Linked DNA regions of Homo sapiens: region 2 is linked to region 1. Evidence: fine-mapped expression QTL. A gene starts in region 1. The other region holds a variant in brackets. All regions are shown on one strand. Distances are from middle to middle.

Evidence for each region. PIP is the estimated chance that this variant, and not a neighbour inherited with it, causes the effect. A credible set is the group of variants that fine-mapping cannot tell apart.
Region 2: its variant is the best candidate, but not a certain one, in a credible set for the expression of CSMD3 in testis (GTEx, PIP 0.64).

The regions. Positions count from the first base shown.
Region 1 is chr8:113,430,832-113,443,292 of GRCh38, reverse strand. CSMD3 (CUB and Sushi multiple domains 3) reads left to right here and starts at 6,354. Exons shown (of 71, transcript NM_198123.2): 1 at 6,354-6,616. The coding sequence starts at 6,439. LOC105375709 (a long non-coding RNA gene) reads right to left here and starts at 11,106. Exons shown (of 2, transcript XR_928544.3): 1 at 10,867-11,106; 2 at 10,163-10,752. RefSeq lists enhancers at 4,920-5,420, 5,433-5,482, 7,260-7,770, 9,700-10,203, 10,204-10,707 and 1 more.
Region 2 is chr8:113,056,102-113,068,562 of GRCh38, reverse strand. All of the region lies in intron 5 of CSMD3 (CUB and Sushi multiple domains 3), which reads left to right. Among named protein-coding and RNA genes, the nearest start is that of CSMD3, 370 kb to the left of the region's middle. The variant TA/A (reference allele first, on the strand shown) is at 6,531.

The DNA of each region.
Region 1 (12,461 bases):
CTTTAAATTTGTGAAGCATCCAACCAAATTATTTTCAATGGTTCCTTTCATTCAAGAGTTTGTAAACATTTAGGAAAATTAACATCACAATTAAAAGTTACAAAAAGTTAGTGAATTCTGCTTTATCACCAGCAAAGCAGTCTACTATGAGTGAAAGGAGATTGCAAGCACAGGTGAAATGTTCTTGCCTTCTACCTGTGGGCTGTGTTTTGCTATGTTGGGGCTCTGGGATTATGATCAAATATAATTTAAGAACTAAGCTTGCATGTTTCTAGAATTGACTTTCAGTTGTAAATTGTTTATTGCAGATATTTAGATTTCTCAGTTAACAAAATTACAAAAAACTGATTCTTAAGTGGATAAATGAAACAAAATAGAAAGAAGGTCCTACACATACTACCTAATTTAGAATGGACTAAAAATCTACAGAATAAAAAGTATTAATGGTTTTATTGTGCATATTTAAAAATATGCATTTATCTAAAAAATTTTTCATTAATTTTAAAGATTAGCAGAGAATATGTAGATAATAAAGACAGTACCAAATTGTTAAAAGATAATAATGAACTAATTGGATGGATATGAATAACCTCTGGATATGAAATCAAATATATACTACATTTTGATAATAATCTTGATATATTTTATATCTTATAAAATCAACATTTTTGATTTATATTCTCTAAGTATTCATGGGGTTTGTTTTGTTTTGTTTTGTTTTGAGACGGGATCTCACTCTGTTGCTCAGATCTCGGCTCACCACCACATCTGCCTCCAGGTTCAAGCGATTCTCCTGCCTCAGCCTCCAGAGTAGCTGGGATTTCAAGTGTGTGCCACCACACCGGGTAATTTTCGTATTTTTAGTATAGATGGGGTTTCACCGTGTTGGCCAGGCTAGTCTTGAATTCCTGACCTCAGGTGATCTGCCTGCCTCGGCCTCCCAATGTATTGGGATTACAGGCGTGAGCCACTGCACTTGGCTATTTATGTATTCTTAAGGACATTTGAAACTGATACTACATAACTATACAGTGTATGTGAGTTTAAAGAATGATGAAAAAAAGATCTGCTATACCAGGAATTGAGGTTTATTCAGATAATGTCAATGACACAACTTTATTACTGATGAAACACAGAGACCCGAATTATCTTGATTATTTAGCAAAGCTACCTTTTGCTTAACTCTTTATTTTTGTTCTTCTATGCAAAGACAGGTTACTTAATATCAGTCCCAGGTGAGCAAGAGAGTGAAACACACTCAAGACAAACAGAGAAATCTTTAAAGAATCTCTCTATTCTTCTTATCTGCTCTCTTTCAGGGTAATTACCCAAATGCCCCCCAATTATTTACCATGATTCCCTCCTTTCAGGAAACAGAGCTCATATATGGTTCATCTTAAACTATTTAATATATGTAATTTTAAATTTTCCATGTTTAAGAATGAAGCAGTTGAGAAAATTTGAAAGTGGGCAAAATTATTATATTTGTGGCTCACATAAAAATAAGTGTTTTTTGTAGTCAGTTAATACAGTTCGTCTGTATGGATAGAGCAATAGATTCTGTGTCCAGTTTTAAGGCTTTTCTGTTCTCTTGTAATACAACGTTACTACCTTTATTTGACATATAAACTTCAGTCTGATGTTCTTAATGTTGTTATAAGCTTAAAAACATTGAAATGCCTGTTAAGCTTCAGTATTAATGAAATTGCAAGAGGAGTCAGGACATAAGAAAAATGAATTCCTAGGAAAGCACACTTAGGACTCTTCCAACAGGCCTGTCTCCACCTCTCTACAATGGTTCCTGATTTACAACAGGAAGGACAGATCCTTCTATCGGCTTGATAATTTATCTTCTTAAATATTGCTGTTTTAAAGAAAATTACTTTAACATGAATACTAGGTCTCTTACTTTCCTTTTTCCTCAACAAATAAGGACATTTATAAATCAAGGTAATGCATATACTTAAATTAGAATCCCCTCATTATTCTAGATTCAACATTTAAATTCAAATATTTTATTTCGCAGGAGTTGGAGAGATCAGACATGACAGATCCAAGAATGAGCATTTATTGAAAAATGAGAAAAATGAATTCCTCTTTTCCCCCTACTCTCCTGGCAGTGAATTATATGTAAAAACTGCAAATGAGCAGGAAAATGTCTGCTTGGTTATTTGTAATCATTAACATTTTATCTTACTCTAACTAGTTTTTTCCCACAGACCCACAGATTTGATTTTCAGCCTTTTAATTAAATACATGTGAGAATGTGTGTGTGTGTGTGTGTGTGTGTGTCTGTGTGTCTGTGTGTGTGTCTACAGTCAATGAACATTTAGTTTTAATAGGCAGGAACATTTCTATAAAAAAATTACTTCACTTGAGCAAGAATCCCCATGTAAACCTTTATATCCATTATATAAATTAAAAAAAAACACTAAGTTTATAGCTGTCAAAAGTATATGCTTCTTTCCAAAGTTAAAGGTAACGCACTTCCCACATTTTTGTGTTGTGTTTTCTCAGTGTACTCATTTTGTTTTGATTATTTTGTTCATTTATCTTTGATATTGCTCCTGTGGTGACAAAACATAGTAAATACATGTTGAAGGGGCTAGTCTAATACTGGGCAATTTTTGGAGAGGGGCTTATTTTATCTTTTTTAGTGCAATTCAGCCCTGTTTTAAGATCAAAGTTAATTGTATTCCATAGGTATTTGGGGAAGGAACTGGAAAGGAATGGAAATCTAGTACTTCTAGTTTAAAGAGCTTGTGCATTTCTGATTTAACCTCTTTTTAAAAGCTCTTAAGGGTACTTAATCATTGTGTCTTGATGATCCTTGCCAAGTCACGTTTTACCACGACCTATATGTAGGAAGATCAATAGGCTGCAAGAAGTAAATAAAAATTTTTAAAAAGAGGAGGAATTTTCGTAACTGATAAGTATAAAAAGGACAAAAGTTTTTTATTTATATGTGTACATATATATTCTAAAATTTTATCACTTATAAACTATAAATTATTGCTTTTCTATAATTATGTATCATGTGTACTGTAAAAATGATTCATTCTTTTTGTTACTAGACTATTTCAAAACAAGCATCTGTAGGAGCTAGCATAAAATATAGGACATTAGGGAAGCATATTAACTCTGAAATCAGGTGCCATAGGTTCATACTTCTTACATGTGTTACTTCAGGCAAGGCAAGACAGTTAACTTCTATGTGTATCAATTTTTTTTTCATCTGTAAAACTAGGATAGTTGTTATGCTTGTCTCAGAAAGCTGTAGAGCTTGTCTCAGAAAGTAGTGAGGATTGAATAATATATCTTATGTAAACATAGCACAATGCCTAATGTACAATAAGCACCTGAAGTTTGCTATTATGTTAGCTATTTTTCCATAATCTCTTTCTAATAGTCTCACACAAATGAATGTATAGCTGTGTTGCTTTCCTACAGATTAGCAACAAGAGATAATTTCTTTCTCCCAAATGTAGACACTATGTTCCCTCCCCCGCCCCCACCCCTTCTGGAGAAACTAAAGGATTCTCACCCAGGATTGTGGCTGAAAATTTTGTGTTTCTGGAATACCTTTGGAAATCTTTCCTTAAAGAGGATACTGTTCATCAAGAAAGACTAGTGAGATCTAGCCCTAAACACATTGGACTAAACACCAAAGTTCCTGATAGTGACTTTGGATAAACCTCTTTAGCTCCTCATGCCTTAACTTTTTCCGTCTGTGAAATATTATTTTCCATCCTGTCTCAGAAGCTGGAAGACACAGGTGAAAATGGTTTGTGATTTATTGTGAGCTGTAGAAACTAGATATTATAGTATTGTTCAATATATTATGAGATTCCAGATAAATCTTTTAACAATCTCACATGAAATGATAGGCAGGATTCATTTAGGGAAAGATAATTGGATTACAGGATTAGCCATGTGTTTGAAAATAAATATCAGAAATTGGTATCTTACTAGTAATCTTTATGGTCTTTTAATCAAAATTTACTTACTTTGTGCACAATAATTACTGTTAAAATACCCTGTCTTTTGAGAAAGGGTTTTTTGCGGGGGGGTTTGTTTGTTTGCTTTTTTGGCATGAAGTCCTCCTGTCTGGATGTATAGCCATGTGTTATGTGTTCAAATAGATTGCATAAAACCCAATATTTTTGTTTCTTTTAATAAGAAGTAAATTCAGTTGAGGTGACTAACCTCTGCACACTTGGTAAGGAGGATTTTTGCTGAGCATCCTCATTAAGTCCAAGGGCCTGTTTACATCTCTAACTGGTTGTCCAGCCCAGCAAAGGCAACAGCAGCAACACCACACGCTGACATCTTGACTGAAATCAATGCCAGAGCAGCTGCCAAGGTGGCTTAGCAGGCTAATGTCGTTTTCCATGTTGATCCTCCCAGTCTCTGTCTAGTCCCTACCTTGTTGCCCACTCCCCTTCGAAACCTGCATATGCAGACAATGAAAGAGAGCACTGAAAAGAAGGGACAATGTTCTGCCTGAGGGCTCTTAAAGTATCTCTCTGAATTTAATGAGGTCAGCTGGGCGTCTACAGCTTTTACCTTTTGCTACAGCTCCCTACCCAGGACAGAAATCCCTCTCTAACACACAAACACACACAGGCGTGCACACGCATATGTACTGCAAAAATACACTTGGGAAAACACCTACGCATGGCAAATCACTCTTTGTATCTTTCATAAACACGCACACTTACCTCTCACTACAGCGCGTTTATGCTCTCGCGCGCGCAGACACACACACACACACACACACACACACACGAACTGGGAGAATCACAGGCCCACACACAATGCCACGTACCCCGAGAGATCAGAAGCCTTCCTACGCCTGCAGATTGAACTCACTCGCCACTCAAACCTATGGACACTCGCAGTGTGCCCACTTCCCAGAGCGGAACTCCTTCCAGATTCTAACGCCTTCCTCTGCTGAGCGGGCAGCTCCAACGCGAGCCAAGGGACAAAGCTGGCCAGGGTAATGCTGTGGTGCACGGGACCAAACCCATTATTTGTGCACAGTGCAGGGAGCTGCAAACTCAAGTTGGGCAGTCCTCTAGACTAAGCCTTGTTGATAGACGCTCACGCCCATGATAGCCTGAGGCAGTTAAATGGAGCCACACGCAACAGCAATATCCTGTTTCAGAACTAGCGCTGTGGCACTCCCCACTGCTGAGAGGGGACCAGATTCCCGAAAAGGTCAGATCACCAATCAGTTGCCTAATCTAAGGAACTTGTTCATTGAAAGATTTGGGCCAGGACCGTGGTCGAAAAAAATCAAGGAGCACGACATACTGGTCCCGGGGACACAGCTCCCCTGACACCAAGGGATGGCAAAAACAGGGTCCCTTATACATGCGAAGGAAGAACGGGCGGCTCGGAGACGGCCAGTAGATGGCGCAAGAACTCTTCCCTTGTGCAATCTTAACCCTTGCGTGGTGCATGGGGGAAGCAGATCCAGATGTATAGATACATACATTTTTCGTTTTGAAAGAAACCTCCTATTTACATATTTGGTACCGATTCAGAATTAAGACAAATGGGTTTGTTCTAGATAACTACCACAGATAAAGTAGTTTAACTGCGGCACACACAAACTGAAAAGGGGGTTGGGAGGATGAAAGGGAGAACTATTTGAGGAAACGACATTGACTTCCCTCCCCACCCCACCCCCGCCCAGGCCACGGATGAAATCCGTTTCCCGAATCATAAAAACCCGGTGAAGGGTTTACACGTAGTTATTTGAGTATGTAAATACATGTGTTCAAATACATTCTTTTCCGTGTGAAGGCAGAATTTATTGAGAAAATTCTCTGTGATTTCCTTTTTCAATTAAATCACAGGATAATAAATGGGAGAAGCCTGCCTGAAATATACTGCAACTACAGTAGTAACACATGTCCCATTATAACGACGTGGGCATCGATGGAGCCCGATTCATTATCGTCACGGTTTCCCCAAAAGCAACACAGATCCTCCGATTAAAATATTCCTTTGACATGCTTCTGTATTCGCAGCCTGCAACGGAGAGCTCACTAACATTATTTCTTGGGCTGCTTTTACAGGCAGAATTGATCTATTCGGGGAAAAAAAGCAAGCCCCTTAATTTCAAATATTGTGTGGAGTTTATCAGAGAGCAGAGGTGGGCTTTAAGAGGCTCACTAGTGGTTTCTGGTGGTTGCTATAACGAGCCAGAATTGGGGTAGATTTTGGTGGAGGGGAAAAAACGCACAAGAAAAGACAGAATCCAGAGTAGCGGAGACTTTGTGCCCCCGTTGGAGAGATGGTTGAGTCCTCGTCAAGGTTGCTGTGGTATCCCAGAAACACCATTCACTCCGAGCTGTGACCGCGCACCAACAACAGCAACAACTCCACTGCGCCGGGCTGAGGAGCAGGAATTAGGAGCTCGCGAATAATATGAAAGGGATCCGCAAAGGGGAAAGCCGAGCAAAGGAATCCAAACCCTGGGAGCCTGGCAAGCGAAGATGCGCTAAATGTGGCCGCCTAGACTTCATCCTGATGAAGAAAATGGGGATTAAAAGTGGATTTACGTTTTGGAACCTCGTCTTTTTATTGACGGTGTCTTGTGTGAAAGGTAGGTCTGCTTTGGGGGTCCCCTCCGCTTTGGATGGAGGTGGGCTGACTTGTAGATGGAGAGAGGCTGGCAGCTTACTTTGCAATTTGCACCGATAAAATAATCTGATAATACTAAAGGAGTTGATTCACAGCTCGTTCTCCCCCCCTCAGATAGGAAATGCATTTTGCTTGCCAGATTTGGCGTTCAATGCGGTGATTGAGCTTGTGCTCAATAAATATTCTTGCAGTATGCTCAAACGAATACGTGAGTTGGTTAGTATAGCCTCTAACTAGTGGATATCCAGGCAGAATTCCTCTGCAAGACTTTTCTTAGTGGTGAGGATTACCTTGATTTCTTGTCAGATCACTAGGGCTTGAGGCTTTGGGTGGAATATATATATTAAAGACGCTGGTCTAAATGCTTTTTAACCCTTTCAGGGAAGAAAGTTATCGACGTGCTAGGAATGTGTTGATTTTAAATGCATTAGGGCACAGGGATCTTCCAAGCACTGCCACATCAACATGAATGTCTGCATGCATATGTATGTAAATTGGGCTTCTATGCAATGTTAAATGTAGGGGAGCTTCCCTAGGACCTGTGGTAGAGGTTTGGCAAAAAATGAGGCTTTCGAAGGGTCTGAAATGCCATGAAGTGTAAAGAACCACCTTAAGGGATGAATGAGGTAGGAGGAAAGTCATTAGCTGACGACCAAAAGAAAATCCCCAGCAAGTCTCAGCGTTCAGACAGGTAGAGTGAGTGTCACATGCACAGATAGGGGAGGGGGTAGGTGGGATGTAAAAATGTATTCCCAAGCAGGAAGGCAAGGGACAGTCAGGATCATGGGAAAAAGAGCTGTCCTTAGGGAGAAAATAGATCCATAGCTCTCTTCCACAACTTCTCCGGCACCCTGCTGCCCATTAATTGCTGCAAAGAATACTCAGGAGGTGTTTATGACTCATGCCATCATTTTTTGAACAATCACCTCTCCATACTCATGGCAGCTCGAATAGACGCTATGGATGCCGCTTTCAGTGAAGCTAGTTTCAAATCCCGGGTGTCTGTGTGTCGCGGGGGGGCGGGGGATCGCGGGAAAGGGGGTGCTGTTTTGGCCCAGGCGCGCCAGGGCTGTCAACACAAACTGGACGCTTCTTCCTTTGTAAAGGAGTGCCTCTCTGAACTGCAATCGGGCCGCGTCTCTATGAAACAGTTTATTGTCCAGCTTGCAGCTGGCTGTCCCCCCACGGAAGGCAGCTCATTTGCATTCAGTGGAAATGATAATTCATGTTTTGGGAGGAGGGAGCTGGAGAGGTTACCTTTCCCTCTACTATAACCAATGATGGGTGGCATGTCTAGAATTTTAATTTACATCCCAAAATGCCAGGAAGTCAGTCGCCCCGGTCTCTGTGGCAGCAACTGCCTTGTAATCCCAACCTGCTCCTTGAAGCTTGATTTTTCTTTTCTCTCTGGGGCCTCAGAGCAGCTCTGAGCCGAAAAGCTTGTCCTAAGTGGCACAACTACACTGCCAAATGTACAAAGCACGGCTCAGGTTGCTTACAAGGTTTCTTTGTCGCTGGCTCGACGGGTGAGGAGCCACACATTTATGCTTAGTTCGCCTGCCACTGGGAGTTGGTGGTTAATGGATGGCCCTGGGGCTGCCTGCTAGACGCGCGCTTCGCGTGGGGGAGGCGCGAATAGCCAGCAGCAGCCCTGGCAGAAAAATGTAAGGGTGGCTCCTGTGAGAAGATGACCAGGGTTTAAGTGCGAGTTTTCATGTGATACCTGTTGAGCCAAAACACATTCGGGGGCAGATGAGGGGGAGGGAAGTCTCCGAAGCGGGGCGAGCATTACAGCCTGACTAACGCTGATCCGCGCCGCCTGCAATTAGAGCCCCGGCTGCCCGCACCTACCGTATTTTCCGAATGAGATGCGCCGATAGAAAGGAAAGGCGCGTTAATTTACTTTGGACTGATATAATCGGTTTAGCTTTGGAGATATTGAGAAGGAAGAGTATGTCATAGCCTTCTTTGATCCTGTGCAAAATCAATATTCTACAGACTATACGTAAAAAACATTTTTTTTCAATGTCAATAAAGTTATTGTCACTCATCGGGCACTTGGAAGGCATCTCCTACATTTTACGACTTGGAATACTGTCCCCAAATTCTGAGAAATTTGCATAGGTTTTATGTTTTAGACCTGCTGTCAATCTCCGAATGATGCCAATTTTGATAGTTGCTTTTTACTCTCCCTTTCCTCATTTTATTTTAATTTCACCTGTCTCAAGGCTTTCCTAAAGCCAAGATTGATGCAATGCCTTAAACATTGTTTGCCCCAATGTCTATGCTCGCTTTTGTCTTCTACACTTTCTTCTGGAATGTGAGGTCCATGAAAAACCTCAGACTGGGGAGCCGTTGTAAGGATTTTGCAGGTTCTAATCTAGACTAGCGTGAGGGTCCAGGAAGTCCGAGGCAGGCAGTTTTCCACGTGAACAGCTCTAGCCACGAGAATTACACCATCTGCCTACAGTTTTCATCCCTCCACCATCTCACCTTTGCGTTCAACAGCAATGACAAAGAGGCTTAGTGGGAGGAAACGCCTCGGAGTGTAAGATAAAGTGGTCTTAGGTAGGCCTGAACCACTCGGGTGGGGCTGAAAAGGAAAACAACCTTTCCTTGGCATTTCATTTCCACTGTCATGTGAAATAAAAGGCTGTGGAGAGCACCAAACTGAGGCGTGGGACAGGGCAGGTGCTGCCTAGACTTGATCCATGCCTATTTCAAACTGAACTCCCCTCCCCCGCACCCCCCACACAGGTACACACGCACACACACACACAGGCAGAGGTTTCTGAAATGCCTCCAGCTGCAGCGTGTCTGTTTAGGTCTCACCCAGATAGAAACTGTGAATCTCCAAGTCGTGCTTAAGCGTCCCGCCCATGTAAAGAGACATCCATGGGATGTTTTCCCACGCTGCTTGTCAGTGGATCCCAGGGGAACACACACCGTGCAGCGAAGGTACCGCGAAGGCACAGATCTCTGGGTAGGCAGCAGGTGGGAGACCGGGTGCGGCGTCGCGCACCCCACGCCAGAGCGTCTTTCCAGGGATTCTCGCCAGAGCGACTTCGCGAAGGATCCACGTTTCTGCGTGCTCTGAGACTCCAAGGAGATACTACTCCTGCCACAGAGGTCTTTTGGAAAAGTGGAAATCGCATCCTCTCCCGCAGTTAGTTGCTACTGGAGAGGGGCGCGGGTGTCTTATGAGGGGGAAGAGCTGCCAGAGGCACTCATTAGCACCTTTTACAGACGCCCGCCCAGGTGGCCATGTCCGGAGCTTTCAGCCCCGCGTGTGTCCCGGGGACTGACACCCACAGTCCTCGCCCATAAGGCGACAGTCTTTCCCAACACATCAGGAAAATATCTGTCTCAGCTTGAGAGAGCTTTACAAAGGGGGCTGAGGGAAGGGAAATCAATGTCTTTTCAAAATAATAACAGCAAACAAAAACCCACCTAGACAAAACCATTATCAAAACCCTTCCCCCAACACTAGCAAGACTGAGAAACCCACTGAAAGGTAACCTTTGTATTTGAGTCAGGGCCCCCTCCTGCTGTAGTTTGGACAGGCGCCCCTCCCTTACATCTATTTCCTGTGGGAATACTCATTAATTTCTTCAAGAAGATCAGCCTCCCTGAATTTTCATGGACAACCCGAAGTTGAAACTGGGTGGCTGACTTGGCTGTTGATGTGCGTGTGTGCGTGTGTGCTGCTGGGAGGAGGACACATGAATTGACACGGAGAAACCTTTAGGAGTCTCCGAGGGTGGGTGTGAGTGTGTCCTAGGCGGAAACGCCTGGCGGGTAACAGCGCTTTAATGTTCCCAGGACTCCAGATGGCCAGTGGCGCTGCGACCACTGCTGTCACGATGAAGTAGAAGTGCGGAGGAAGCTCCCTTTCTCCAGGCGGACCGCAGCGCTGTCCTCACTCAAATAACTTATCTAAGACGCACTCGGGGAGTTCGGAAAGCACATTGGGGAAACAACGAGTGGGGATTGTGGCTCCTCTGCAACGTCCCCGTCCCCCAGATCCGTTCAACGACGACGGAAAGGCCAGCAGGAGGGCAGCCCCCGGCTCAAGTGCTGCAAGGGCTTAGTTAGACTCTGAGGGAGAGAGCAGAAGAAATTAAACAGCATAGTGCCATCTGAGTAGCCAAAGTGGTCTTCTCCCAGCCCCGCTGGAGTGACCAGCTAAGGGGCTGACACAGGGGCACGCACAGGGATTGCTGCGCATTGCAGAATAATAATGAAGGAGGACAACCAAAGGAAGAAAGATCGGCTCAGGCATGAGGCTGGTTCTCTTCTCCCTGAATGCGGTCTTGTCTTTGGGGAGGCTTTGCACCACCGAGTTGCTAAGTTAACCCAATTTACCGGACTGACAGGGCTTGAACGGTTACCAGAATTCGGAGCTGAACTTCACTGGACAGTTAGCTTGTTGAAAGCGCTCTGAAATGTCCTTTTGCAGCACCGTACTTTCCGGAATCATCTGGTTGGGGAGGAGGCGGGTGCTGCATCACGCCCTCATTGGAAGAGTATGTGAGCAGAAATAATTAAGGAGAAGGTTTCGGCATCTTGAAAACCTGATGCCAGCTCCCTTGAGATCCTTCAAGGAGAAAAAGAGTAGAATTACTCAATAAATTAAGTACTCCAGGAGCAAAGGCTTCGTTCCAGTAGTTATTACCCTTCATGATATTAATTAGCATTTCTATTTGTAGGGTAGCTGAATTAATTTGGAGTATACGCGTCTTTTCCCTAAACACAAAATTTGGTGTCTACAAAACAGTGAAATAACAAATAGACACCAAATGTCATCTGTGCATGATTCTAAGTACAGTAAAACTCTATCATAAGTGAAAGCTGATAAACAAAAAAAGTAGGAGAGGTGTGCAGTTAATAATGCCTTTGTACTCATGTGCGGAAAAAAAAAAACTCTGACCTTAAAACGCTTTTCTAAGATCTCAAATGCAAAAAAGTGGAGGGAACTAAAGTTTACTTCCTTAGCCTCCAAATATACTTCTTCATGTGTTCCAAAGGGTGTTTCTCTTCTACTTACTTATCAGGGGCTTCCGAAATGGCTTAAGGATATAAAATACCTTCAATATTTTGTCTATTTTAAAGCACCAAGCATACGCCTGGTAAGGCACCAGTACCTTTAGGCAACATGACCTTTTGAGAAAATACGCCATCTTGTACTTTGAATTCCAAGATTTGGGAAATTAGAAATAAAATGGTTGTAAATGACAGATTAAGAAAAAATGTGTAAGATACAAGTAAAATCTAAGAACACTTTAGTTTATTTACATGTACATTAAAACATAGCTTTAGCTATTTTTCCCTATCTCTTTCTTCTGTTCCCTTTACTCATCATCCAAAGGAGTATATAATTTAGAATACAGTGGAAATATTGATTTGGACTTTGGATGAGTATGAGAATGGTGCCATTACAGACACTGCGGTTGCCAAATTCATCTTTCTGCTCTCAGAGTGAGCAGGTGGGTGATTCACGGTATTTCCAGGTATACCTACCTCCATGCCTGCAAGGTTTTCTCAGAATTGGGCCCCTTGTGAGGCTCTTATTCTCTTCAGGGACATCGCTTTTAAAAGTATCACAGAGAAAAATCAATTTGTTGAAGACCTGCTGGTATTCACAGCCACAATGCTGATGATCACCTTTCCTTCTCTTAAGGCCCCAGACTTGCAGCCATCAAATATATTTCATGTCTTAAGTTGCTTTGCTAAGCTGTTGTTTGGTGCTGGTTAAGGAATCCTAATGATTAATATTTTCTATATAGTGATAATTCGTTGCCGGCAAC
Region 2 (12,461 bases), 370 kb after region 1:
TACACAAAGATGATTGTTGGCACAGTCCTAAGGGCTAGGTGTGTTTACCACAAAAGAATAGATAGGAAAGATATGAAAACTGGTTTGGAGACTTTAAATCATAGTTACTCTGCCCATCATAGAGAAATGTTCCAATAAATGGCTCTGGATCTGACCAATCACAGCAACATTTCTCTTGTGCAGGAGTCTCTAAAATTAGCATATTAATGTCCATCTCATTGGAATATAAGGTTACATGATGAAAAGCTCATTATGGTCCCAGTACGTTTTAGCTGTTATTATTTTCCTTATTTTCAATTGTCCAAATATTTTGCTTTTTGACATTTGGCTGTTTGTCATCGAGAATTCACAGTAGTATTCACTAAATATGCTTTATGACTAAAGATTATTATACTAAAAATGCACATGAAATTATTAACTTCACTCAAAAGTTGGTATTTTATACAGAACTCTTTTTATACAGCATTTTTCCACAGAAACAAAATTTCACATGAACAGTTTGTTTTAAAACATTGGAACACCTCACTGAACAATAATTAAAGTAATGAAATTTTATTCAAAGTACCTAAGTCAGTCCCTTGTAGTCAATTAGGTGTCCAGAGCAGTGCAATTATGTTTCAAACCACCAGGGCACATTTAAACCACTGAAGCAGAATGTTGCCCTGGTGATTTTAGGATAATGCTATGGGAGAGTTGCTCAGACCATTTATTATCTTCAAGTTAAAGAGCGATATTAACTCATTCATACCCTAAGCACACCATGCATTAACCACTGCTAGCACTCTTTTCTTGGTGCTGAACTTATAAGAAATAAAAAACATATGAGAAGTATTTTTAATATATTGGAAAAAACAAAATAAGTCACTATTTTTGAGTGTTACTTTCTGCTGTAAAATTTTCCGTCAACTTATAAATATTTTAGTGTCCAATTTGTCTGAACCTGTGCTAAGAATGCATTCAATTAAGGCATACTTGACATATTAAGTTGGTACAAAAGTTATTGCAGTTTTTGCTATTGTGTTCAATGGCAAAATTGTAATAATTTTTGCACCAACCTAATATTTCAAGCTTTACACTATATAAATTTTAGAACTTCACAAAGCTTAAGGACTGAGGCATTCATGAATGGATCCTAAATATCTATGCTGCAATTTCAGTCCATTCCGTACTAGTCTGCTCTCAGTAGGATTGATAATTATGAATAGTCTGAAGACATTTCATATGTCTAAGAAGTTTGTAATGGAATCAGTAATTTTTTTGCTTACACTAACTTCGATTCTTGCACTGTAGTATGTACTGTATTAGTCCATTCTCACATTGCTATAAAGAACTGAGACTGGACAATTTACAAAGAAAAGAGGAAGTCTGGATCTTAGTAGAATGTAAGTATAAAAGGGAATTTAAAATTTCCATTTCACCATTTTCCATAGCCCTTGTTTTCCCAAGGAAATTTTCAGAGAAAAAGAAGACAAAAAATATTGGAATTCTCTTTTTCTTCACTTGTCATTTCAAAAGGGAGCAAATATCAATCTTGAATTACCAGGAGGCTCTAAAAATGATTCTTCAGGTTTTAGTTCTTAATATTACTTAATCCAAATTAGGCTGTTTTCTTCCTTTAGAAATAAACAAAATGGCATCATTCCCACCCTACTCCTGATCTAATGTATTATGGAATAGCATATTAGACTTACAAAGCAATATTTTCTTAGTCCCATCCTATATGAGAATTTTAACCAATGATATCTGTTTTTTTTCTAGCTCTACTTTCTCTAGAGATAGTCCATGATGTTAGAGAACTTTTGCTAACAGATCTTTTTCTTATACTATAAATTTGCTTTGTAAATTAGAGTCATAAATGAGACCAGATTCTGATTTATCCCCCTTTATGATATGCATGATTGATATTTGAGAAGCTTGTTTTTTCAGATTTATAGCAGGAATACTAGCCCAAATGAGGTATACTGTATATTTTTCTCTGATGTATTGAGAGCTGGAATCTGGGACACAGTTAATTTAAAAGGCAGAAATTAAAAGCCACTGAAAAGAATTCTCTTATGCTAACTAAAATTTTCACTTACTGATTGGTGAAACAAATCTTTAGAATTATTCATCATTTAGAGGTAGTCGATCTAATCATTCTCATCATTTGTTTTCTTCTCTTTCTTTTTTTTTAACTGAAGTCCTCTACTTCCATACCTCACCCTCTCCTCTTCATACTCCATAACAAACTACAGATGAAGCCTCCACCTAATATTCAAAAACACTTTTTCTCTTTGTGCTCTACGTTAGAGTTCTAAAGTCCTCAGAACAATATACTGTACAAATTTAGACCTATTTTATCATTAATAATTAACCTACTAATCTATAGCACAATATACCAAACAATTTGTCTCGCTTTTTTGTCCTTTCTTTTTCTTTCTTTTTTTTTTTTTTCTTTTTCTTGGGTCTTTGACCTTGAGACAAGAGCAAGAATAAGGGTTTCCAAACTTTTTTATTGTGCACACCTCTCAGAAAAAAAAAAATTGAGCAGAGCATGCATTGCCATTTGTTTATTTATCACTGTATAAAGCATTCATATTTACATACCCAATATGGTATATAATATGGAGCAATATAATAAATAATATAAAATATAACTGTAATGTATTTGTATACTGTAGAACATACACCTTCATTAAAAGATACCAATACTAATATATCATGTACATTCTACATGTGATATAAAAACTATTGACTTGAAGTTTTGTGAACCTAATTAATAACTTCAGCTACTAATGCTGTGATGCCCATAACCTTCACTGACATCATAATGGAGGGTCTGAAGGAATGACATATGATAAAGACCAGATAATTTTTTAAAACATGAGGCTGTTTTTGCCAGGCACGGTGGCTCACGCCTGTAATCCCAGCACTTCGGGAGCACGAGGCGGGCGGATCACGAAGTCAGGAGATCGAGACCATCTTGGCTAACATGGTGAAACCCTGTCTCTACTAAAAATACAAAAAAAATTAGCCAGGCGTGGTGGTGGGCACCTGTAGTCCCAGCTACTCGGGAGGCTGAGGCAGGAGAATGGCGTGAACCCAGGAGGCGGAGCTGGCAGTGAACCGAGATCGCGCCACTGCACTCCATCCTGGGCGACAGAGCGAGACTCCGTCTGAAAAACAAACAAACAAACAAAAACATGAGGCTGTTTTATTCCCCATGCCTTGCCTCTTATTTGGACTTTAATCATCTGAAACAGCTTTTTCATGTACTTATAACTTTCATGTACTTAGAACTTAAAATAGCAAGGTACGTCTTCTCTAAACTAATATTTTGTTTTGTATTTTTTTGTCACAACCTAAGGCTGAAATCAACAAACAATTTATTCAGTTACTTATTTATTGCAAAATAATATAGGTTAGTACAATCCAAGCAAGCCCAAAGCACTGTATTTGATATACATTTATACCTAATTAGCTCATTTATAACTCCAGATTACCAACAATATTGTCAACTATATAGCTGTATATTTTCACTATTTTTGTAGATACAACAGAACACCACATAATTTAATTGTTCCATGCATACTTATTAAAAGTATCAATTGTTTTTCTTTAAAAGTATTCAAGCTAAATTTATCTTGGTGCTAATCTGTGACACATATTTTTGTCATATTCAGCAATCTTTTGTCAATATAATGGAGTTGATTCAGGATATCTTCTAGGAGATATTTTCAGAGACAGAATGGCTTCAGTGATGTACTGCTAAGCCCTGTCTTCCAAAATAAATAAAAGAAAAGAAAAGAAAAAGCCGTAATTTGTTATTTGTGGCATGTTTAATTTTATGATCAACCAAGCTACTAACCTGCTATCACTGAACATGGAGTTACAAAGAAATGAACAGAATCAGCTCTCTCAAGCTACCTGTTGGCTATAGCTCACCACTGGGTGGCCTTATCTTATTCTCCTATTAATTATCCTTTACTAATTTCCTCAATAGCTTAGTTTTATCCTGCTGTATTATTTTCGTTTTTGTTAAGAGTGTCAAATACATTTGGAGAGTGAAGTAGATCTTAAATAAATGAATTAATTTAAAAAGTCCTTTTAAAAAACCCCAAGTTTTGCATAATTTATTTATTTTTCTTATTGCCTCATGATTTGCTTGCTCTGTGAACATGTTAAATAAGTTATATATTAAACATAGAAAAGACAATATCTCTCTCTATATATTTTAATGAAATGGACAAAATGGGGCCAAATGGGTACTTACTAATTGTATTCATAAATACAGTTTTAATTTAATCTGTGAATTCAAGGATTTCTTAAGGTTACTACCTAAGGTGCTCAACAATGTTTGAGAATAAACACAAAGCAAATGGTTCATGTAAAACCACTGAAATGATTTTAAAATATACTGATTATAATAAGCTTCTGTCATTGTAACTATAATAAATAGTATAGTTTAAGCAATGAATTTTAGGCAAGTTTCTGTCATTGTAACTATAATAAATAGTATAGTTTAAGCAATGAATTTTAGGCGAGTCCTTTAATATATTATTAAAGGACTATTATTAATATACTAAAAGGTTTTCCTAAAATTCATTGCTTAGACCTTACTATTTATTATAGTCCTTTTAATATATTAAAGGAATTTTATTGTATTATAAAACTTAATAATACTGTATCACCTATTACTATCATCTATTTGCTGATATTAAAAATATTTGAATTCATTGTGAATTATGATTTGAAAATCATAATTCTGATATTACATTTACTGATATTTATTTTGCTTTAAATATCTGTAAACATAACTTACACCTGAAGTAGATAGGATATCTTCAATTTGACAAACTAAATAGAGTTATGTTTGGTTTGTAGGCACATGTTTCCAACAAATAGAGAGGTAAAAATGCAGTAACATGGATCAGTAGTTTGCAGACTGATTTATTAAGAACAGCGGGTAACTAACAACTAAACTAACAAGATGGTATCCCTGAACAGTGTGCTTATTTTCAGGTCAGAGTTTTAATTTTCAAAGGAAATCAAGTGTATAAGTAGCATGCTTGACATGAATCTTGTCACTATTTCATTAGCAAATTAAATATAAATCTGAAAATGCAGTAATTAAAGTAGATATTAAAGATTGTGCATGCTATTTTTAGTATAAAATGTAGTATCTGTTTTAAATCAATACAGTTTCTAAATAAATATCCATGAAGTGAGGATACCTTTGGATAAATAACTTGACACAGCAATGACAATATTAGTTAAATAGAAAGTACTATGAAAGAGAGAAAAATGTTCTGTTACTGTAATGCAAACTTAAAAGGCATCAGGTAACCTGAATTCTAATCTCAATTCTATCACTGTGAATGGTAAAGTTTTGTTTTGCTTTTTTTTTTTACTTTTTATTTTTCTAGCTGGATGCTTTACCAGTAAAATGAAGGAAAACTTCAAATGTAAAATATTTGTAGGGAATGTGATTGAAACATTTGAATTTTTTTTTTCTTTCTGGAAACATTTAAAAAATGTGTATGTAAACAGTCAAAATATGATGCAAATTAACTCTTACTTATAAGTTAGCCTTTAACAAAACTATAATCAGTAATCAATATTATATAATAAAGCATAACTCCTTTTATATTTACATATGTAAGTCACCTATAAAAGCGGAAAATACTTTTGTGTATTTTCAGATTAATTAAATGATAATATATATATAGCTTTGCAAAACAAATTTCCAGACCATAGGTTATACCATACATACTATTAAATAGCTTAAATAATGGCTCAATATAATATGCAGCTTAGAAAGAGACAATACAAATGTGTCTGGCTTTTCCTCAACAGTTACACCTAGATTTTTGTCAAACAAAAGGGAGCATTTGAATATAAAGTAAATATGTAATATTTTAATGATATGGTTCATTTGACCAGCCTTTTCATTTTCATGATACAGGGAAGAATTGGAAATAAGCAGTAGTAATAGGCCTATTCAACTGCTTTTTAATACCTACTGCTTCATTACACATTTATATATTAGTAATTATTGTAGAAACCAACAATTTCAGTTGTGGAAATAATCAGACAAAATACAAGGTGCTTTTCATCAATCCTCTATTTAATCAACCAACTGGACTAACAAATACGTTTCATTTCTTTGATAAAATATACTGAACTGTTTCTATAGTGCAATAAGCTATTTTGTTTAGCAGACTACCACATATATTGTCTGAATAATTTTGTTCCGAGCAGTTCATATTCATGCTTATTTAGAATCAATTGTATTTAGTACAAACTTCTTAGGCTTATTGGGATACTTTTAGTGTGTATATATGTAACTTGATGAAATGTCAATAAATAAACAATGAACTTTTTTTGTACAAAAACCAATTTGAATGCTTAGAGAAAACTTAAGGATGAGTTACTAAAAATTTGCCTGAATTAGGTGTGGACAAGATATCTTTAAAAATAGGAAGCCATTAATATAAAATAATTAAAAGTAGAAAATAATAGAAAAGTAATAGAATTAACAATAGACAAAT[TA/A]AGAGTTTTCAAACTAAGATTGCTTAACTGGTGTCTCTAATTTTTACTCAAGTTTTTTCAACTTGGAATGATAAGAAACTATGTATCATGAATTATGTACAAAGAAGACATAATGAAATAATTACAATTATTAGATGTTTAAAGAAAAGTTCTTGAGTCTATATCATAAGATTAGTGAATGGGCTATGCATCTACACATCTTAAGATAAAATACAATATTTAAGTTATGTATTTATTCCTTTACAGAATTTTTGATATCCTGCTTTAACTTTTTTTTTATTAACCTATGATTTGTATCCCAACAACATTAAATAAAAATGCTTCTACCTTAAAATATGCATATAATTCTAGGGATATAAATTCTAGAGTTATAGCAATCAAGTATCAAAAATATATGGGTACCTAAACCATCTGTAAATCAAAACAGTTTAATGACAAAAGTCTATTTGAAATATGTGAACAGTGAATTCCATGTATACCTTTTACTAATCAATTCAAAAACACATGAAAACATCAGGCCATTTTGTTTATTTGTTTTTGTTTTCTCTCAGCCTCATAATGCCTTTCCTTTACTCAGTTATTCAGGCCAGGCTCCTAGTTCCTCATAGGAGCTTAACTTCCTGACTCACATATCTACTCTGAATTATAATTAAACTCTTGGATGAATCTAGTATTCATGTGGACAATAATTCCTCTGAAACCCTAGTAAAGTCTATTTGATACTAAAGCTGATGTTCTTTTCCTATATAGCAGAACCCTATAATGTGTAGCTACAATTTTCAGGGACTGCATACCTTCCAAAACACAAGAGTGATGTGCATGCAATTCCAAACAACACAATAGATCAGAGAAATATGGGACCTTAAAAGATCTGAGAAGGAGTGGAAAGAGATAACAGGGTTATGGCCCCACAGAAAAGACAAGAGGTGGGTATGTTCCAGCTGCTCTGAGAAGCTAAGAAGGATGACAAAAAATCTCCAGGGGGTTTGTGAGATTAGTAATCTGACTTATCTCAATAGAGTGCAGCTACTTAAAGTCAGATCACATTGAGAAGATAATTGTATAGAAAAGAAATAGAGATGATATGTAAAGACTATTTTTCAAGGGTATTATTGGTGTTGGCAATTACAGGTATTGTTATTCTTCTTGATATAGCAGATGGAGACATTTCATTTAACATTTCCTAAACCTCAGCTGATTTGCGATGCAGGGTAGAGAGTTATGCTTTTCTCCAATTTTTTAACTGAGTTTTGGCTGGTGCTGTGTAGAAACATGCACAGCTTCTGCAATATCTTTTGAGACAACCCCTTTGCTTTTTTGGCTACCTTTTTTAAAGAAAATCCAAATGCATAATATGAACTTAATATTTTTTGTAAAATAGAGTATGTCTTATTAAATACATGAATACCATAGCTTAAAAGCAAAAATTTTAAATAAGCAACAAATATAAAGGAGAAGTATTACTATATTTGTGTCTATAGTTAATTGTGTTTTGTTGCCAGTGAAGTAACCTCAGGTTTATGGTATATAGTTCTAAGGACCCACAGCTCCTCAGTTCCACATAAACCTTGACATTAAAACAAGGCCCTACACTATTCACAATAGCAAAGACTTGGAACCAACCCAGATGTCCAACAATGATAGACTGGATTAAGAAAATGTGGCACATATACACCATGGAATACTATGCAGCCATAAAAAATGATGAGTTCATATCCTTTGTAGGGACATGGATGAAATTGGAAACCATCATTCTCAGTAAACTATCGCAAGAACAAAAAACCAAACACCGCATATTCTCACTCATAGGTGGGAATTGAACAATGAGATCACATGGACACAGGAAGGGGAATATCACACTCTGGGGACTGTGGTGGGGTCGGGGGAGGGGGGAGAGGATAGCATTGGGAGATATACCTAATGCTAGATGACACATTAGTGGGTGCAGCGCACCAGCATGGCACATGTATACATATGTAACTAACCTGCACAATGTGCACATGTACCCTAAAACTTAGAGTATAATAAAAAAAAAATAAATAAATAAAAATAAAACAAGGCCCTAAAGTCTTCAGTCCTACTGCTAGGTTAATTGCTTCTAATTAATTTGCATATCATATTAAAAGAAAAAAAATTACCCTTGCCTATATCTTCTGCTAACTCTCTGGCTGCTTATTTTTCCTCCTGCAGTTTAAACGGAAAATTCCCAGGGCTGTTTCCAATGAACACCCAGAAGCAAAAGTAGCAGAACCTTCTCTAAATCTCTGTCTTCCTTTCTTTGTTCCCAATAGATCAAACTTTCTTAGAAATAGCTGATATCTTTAAAGTGATTCATAGTTCTGAAACTTAAGCTAATTAGCAAATGACATCTGCATCTTACATACAACCATAACCTCAGATCTTTTTCAACATTTAAGCCACTTTTCAAATTTATGAAGAAATATGTCAATTTTAAATATGTTTTAAATAGTAGTTTCCTTTTAGTTAATAAGTAGTTTGTGAAAATATTAGCATGGAAAATTTGTATCTGATTCATGTGCCAGCATTTATTGTTCTGCATCAAATGCAGAACAATATAAAAGATAGGAGGGAAAATGAGTGGATTGTAAACTAGGGAAGTAAGATGCAACAATTTCAGGGCAGCTGTTATCAAGGTACTGTGAAAGGATCATTCCAAATGAAGGCCAAGGGTACCAGAGACAAATCTTTTCTTACTTTTCCATTTTCCAGGTGCTAGATTAGTGTCTCAAAGCACCAGTATAATAAGCTTTGTTTCATGCAGTGATGGGAATGTATGTTTTGGGTTATATAATCTAACTTACACAAAATAAAATCATCCAAATTGCTTTGAGATGCCTACAGGGATGAACATTTGTATGCGTTTTTACTGTCAGTTTCTAAACTGTTTAGATTTTTAACCATCACAAATGTCTTTGGGGAATCATGAGTAGGCTTTCTGCTATGTATAATAAAACATTAATGTTACTTTATGTAATTTATTGAATAAATTTGTTAATTTCCAGATGGTTATAGTACCACTTACCTTTTGCCATGCTAGCTATAGTGTGATGTGTTAGCTATTAATCAAGAATAATTATAGTTAATTTGTTGAAGTCTATATTATCTCCAGTATACTTCTTTTTACTGTATTTGATTGTGTGGGTTTTTTTAGTAGGTGGCATTGAATATTTTAATTAAAAACTAACTATAGAGTAAAAAATAAAATTTTGGCTCTTTCAGCACTTTAAAATAAGTGAAGCCATAAGAAAATGTGGAGTTTACAGGTATCGCTAGGGAAGCTTCTTCTTTAGATTTATGAAATAGTTTTAATTAAAGTAGAAACAGTACCTAAGGGAACATTTAAAATAAAAATTGCAATATAAGTACCCCCATGTTACTTTTTCATCAACTTAGCATCTTTAAGTGTATTATTTTTATTATGAATGTTTCTAATATAAAAATTGGAATGCTAATGAATAAATTGACTTATTCCATGTCATGTATCAATACCAGACAAAACTAAACTTAAGGGCTGTATTTCCAACATTTTTCTGTACTATCCTACATCATAGGATATTTTCCCTTGTTTTGAAAGTTTATTAAAAAAACCCAGCAAACTCAATAAGTTAGGTAAAAAGCAATACAAACATAATATTCAAACTTTATCTAAAGTATGCATATTTTATTTAACTTTAGCTGGGAATATTTAAAATCAGGTCATGTTCTACTTCAACCCACAATACTTAATGTTTCAAACTGGCTAACCCATGAAATAAAATATATAACTAATTAAAAACAATAAAAAGAAATAAAGTTAGATTATAATTCTCAAAAGCTTTCTTGATAGGGTAATAAAATTTATTTGAAAGAAGCTGTGTACCAACTGATGTAAATATTCTATGGAATTTTGATATTTCAATTAAAATATTTCCATATAAACATATTTTCTTATTTTATGAAGAACAGCATATTCAGTTTTAAAAATCCTCCCTTTCAGATCATTAAAATATTCCACTTACTAAGTAAAAATAGCTAATTTTTCTTTAGTGATTCTATAATAGATTAAACAAAATGTTTGCATAATTTCTATTTTAGTCTTTTATTTAGGACACGTATTACAATGTAGTTCAATACCATAGTTATCTACCAAGGTGAGCACAATTCTATTAATATTTTTTTCATATCCTACATATCTATTTTCATATCCTACATATCTATTCATCTCATTGCTTCTAAAATTAGTAATTATTTTGAAGCCATCTGATATATAAAAGTAGAATAGAATTTTTAAAAAAGAAAGCTTTTCATTTTATGTATAGAATATGGGAGTGTTGGTTCTTGTCGTATGTAAATATTTTATATCTATCAATATTACTAATAACAAAATTTTCTTATGATTATTTCAAATGAAATCATTGAGTGCTAATTTTGAAATTTGTGTTCTGGATAATGGTGAGTGATAATAATATGGCCAAAATTATAATTTCATAAATATTTATTATGAGTTGTTCTAAATTTATGTTCTGGTAAATTTTTGGCTCTAATGAGATTCACACTGGTGTCCAAAGACCCCTGATAGAGATACATTCTTTTGACTGAAAAAGAAGAGTTAAATTTTCTTTTCTTAAAGATAAATTGATACTAAACATTCTTTTCAATTACATTTTCAGAAGCTTTTCTAAATTAGACTCTGTATTCTTCCAAAGTTCTAAGATAGATTGGTGAATAATATAAGCAAGGTCTCTGGTTGCATGACTCTTACATTCTAAGGCCAGGGCTTCTGAAATTATTGAAAAATAAATAAGTAAAATAGTTCCAAAAACTGAAAACATTATGAGTGTTAAAATGGCATAGTGAACTGCAGTAGGGAGGGCCTATTTTGGGTTAGACATTGTAGTACAGCCATTTGAGGAATAAGCTTTTGAGTAGATAACTGAAAAATTAGCTATCCAAAGAGCCATTTTGAGGAAAGGCATTCCAAGCTTAGCAAACAGCATGTGCAAAGGCCTGGTGGTGGCAAACAGCTTCCCAAATTTAAAGATTAAGAAATGTCAGTGTGACTAGAAAAGTAGTAAATGTAAAATTACTTCATGGGAAAGGAGATAAGAGAGTAAACGAAGACCAGAATTTCCAGGCTATGTAAAGCCCAATAAAAAGTCAAAATTTCATTCCAAGTTTGAGAAGTTAAGCATAGCAGTGACACATAGGTTATAAAAAATGCTTTGGCTATTGGCTGAAGACCAATTTGTAGAGTGCTCAATAGAATCAGAAGAGACTATTTCCAGGTCTAGGTGAGACCATGGGGACTTTCCGTATATGATAGTAACAACAAAGAAAGTAAAACAAAATCAGATGCATTTTGGAAGCAGAAGAGGATTTGCAAATGGCTGGCCTTCTGAGAGTGAAGAGAACAGATAATTCAAAGATGACTCTTGAATGTTCAACCAATTGGTGTGTAATGCTGCCATTCCATGTGATATTAAAGAATAGAAGAAGGATATGCTTGTAGAGAAAACATCAAAAGTTCCAGTTTGGACATACTGAGTTTGAGATACATATTAGAAACCCAGGTGAAAATGTTAAGTAGATAATTTGAATATATTGTTTAGCAATGAAAACACTTAAACATCACCATCAGAAACTTGCTTTATCTCTGCTTTGGTATGCTGCTGTATGATAACTAGGATGGTGCATCAGTTTCTGCTGTCATTGAAAGTTTTCTTTCTAACACTGGCATTCAGTAGTTGCAGGATGGGTTCATACTACATGGGTGTTCCACACTTATGGTTCCTGCTGCTTAAGTGTTTTCGTGTAGACAGTGTTTCCTCTGCTCTGTTCAAGCACTCAAGCACTGTTTCCTCTGTTCTGGATTTAAGACACAAGAAATCATCAGAGTGGGGGTGCATCCTTTCTGATGTCCAAAAGAGTTA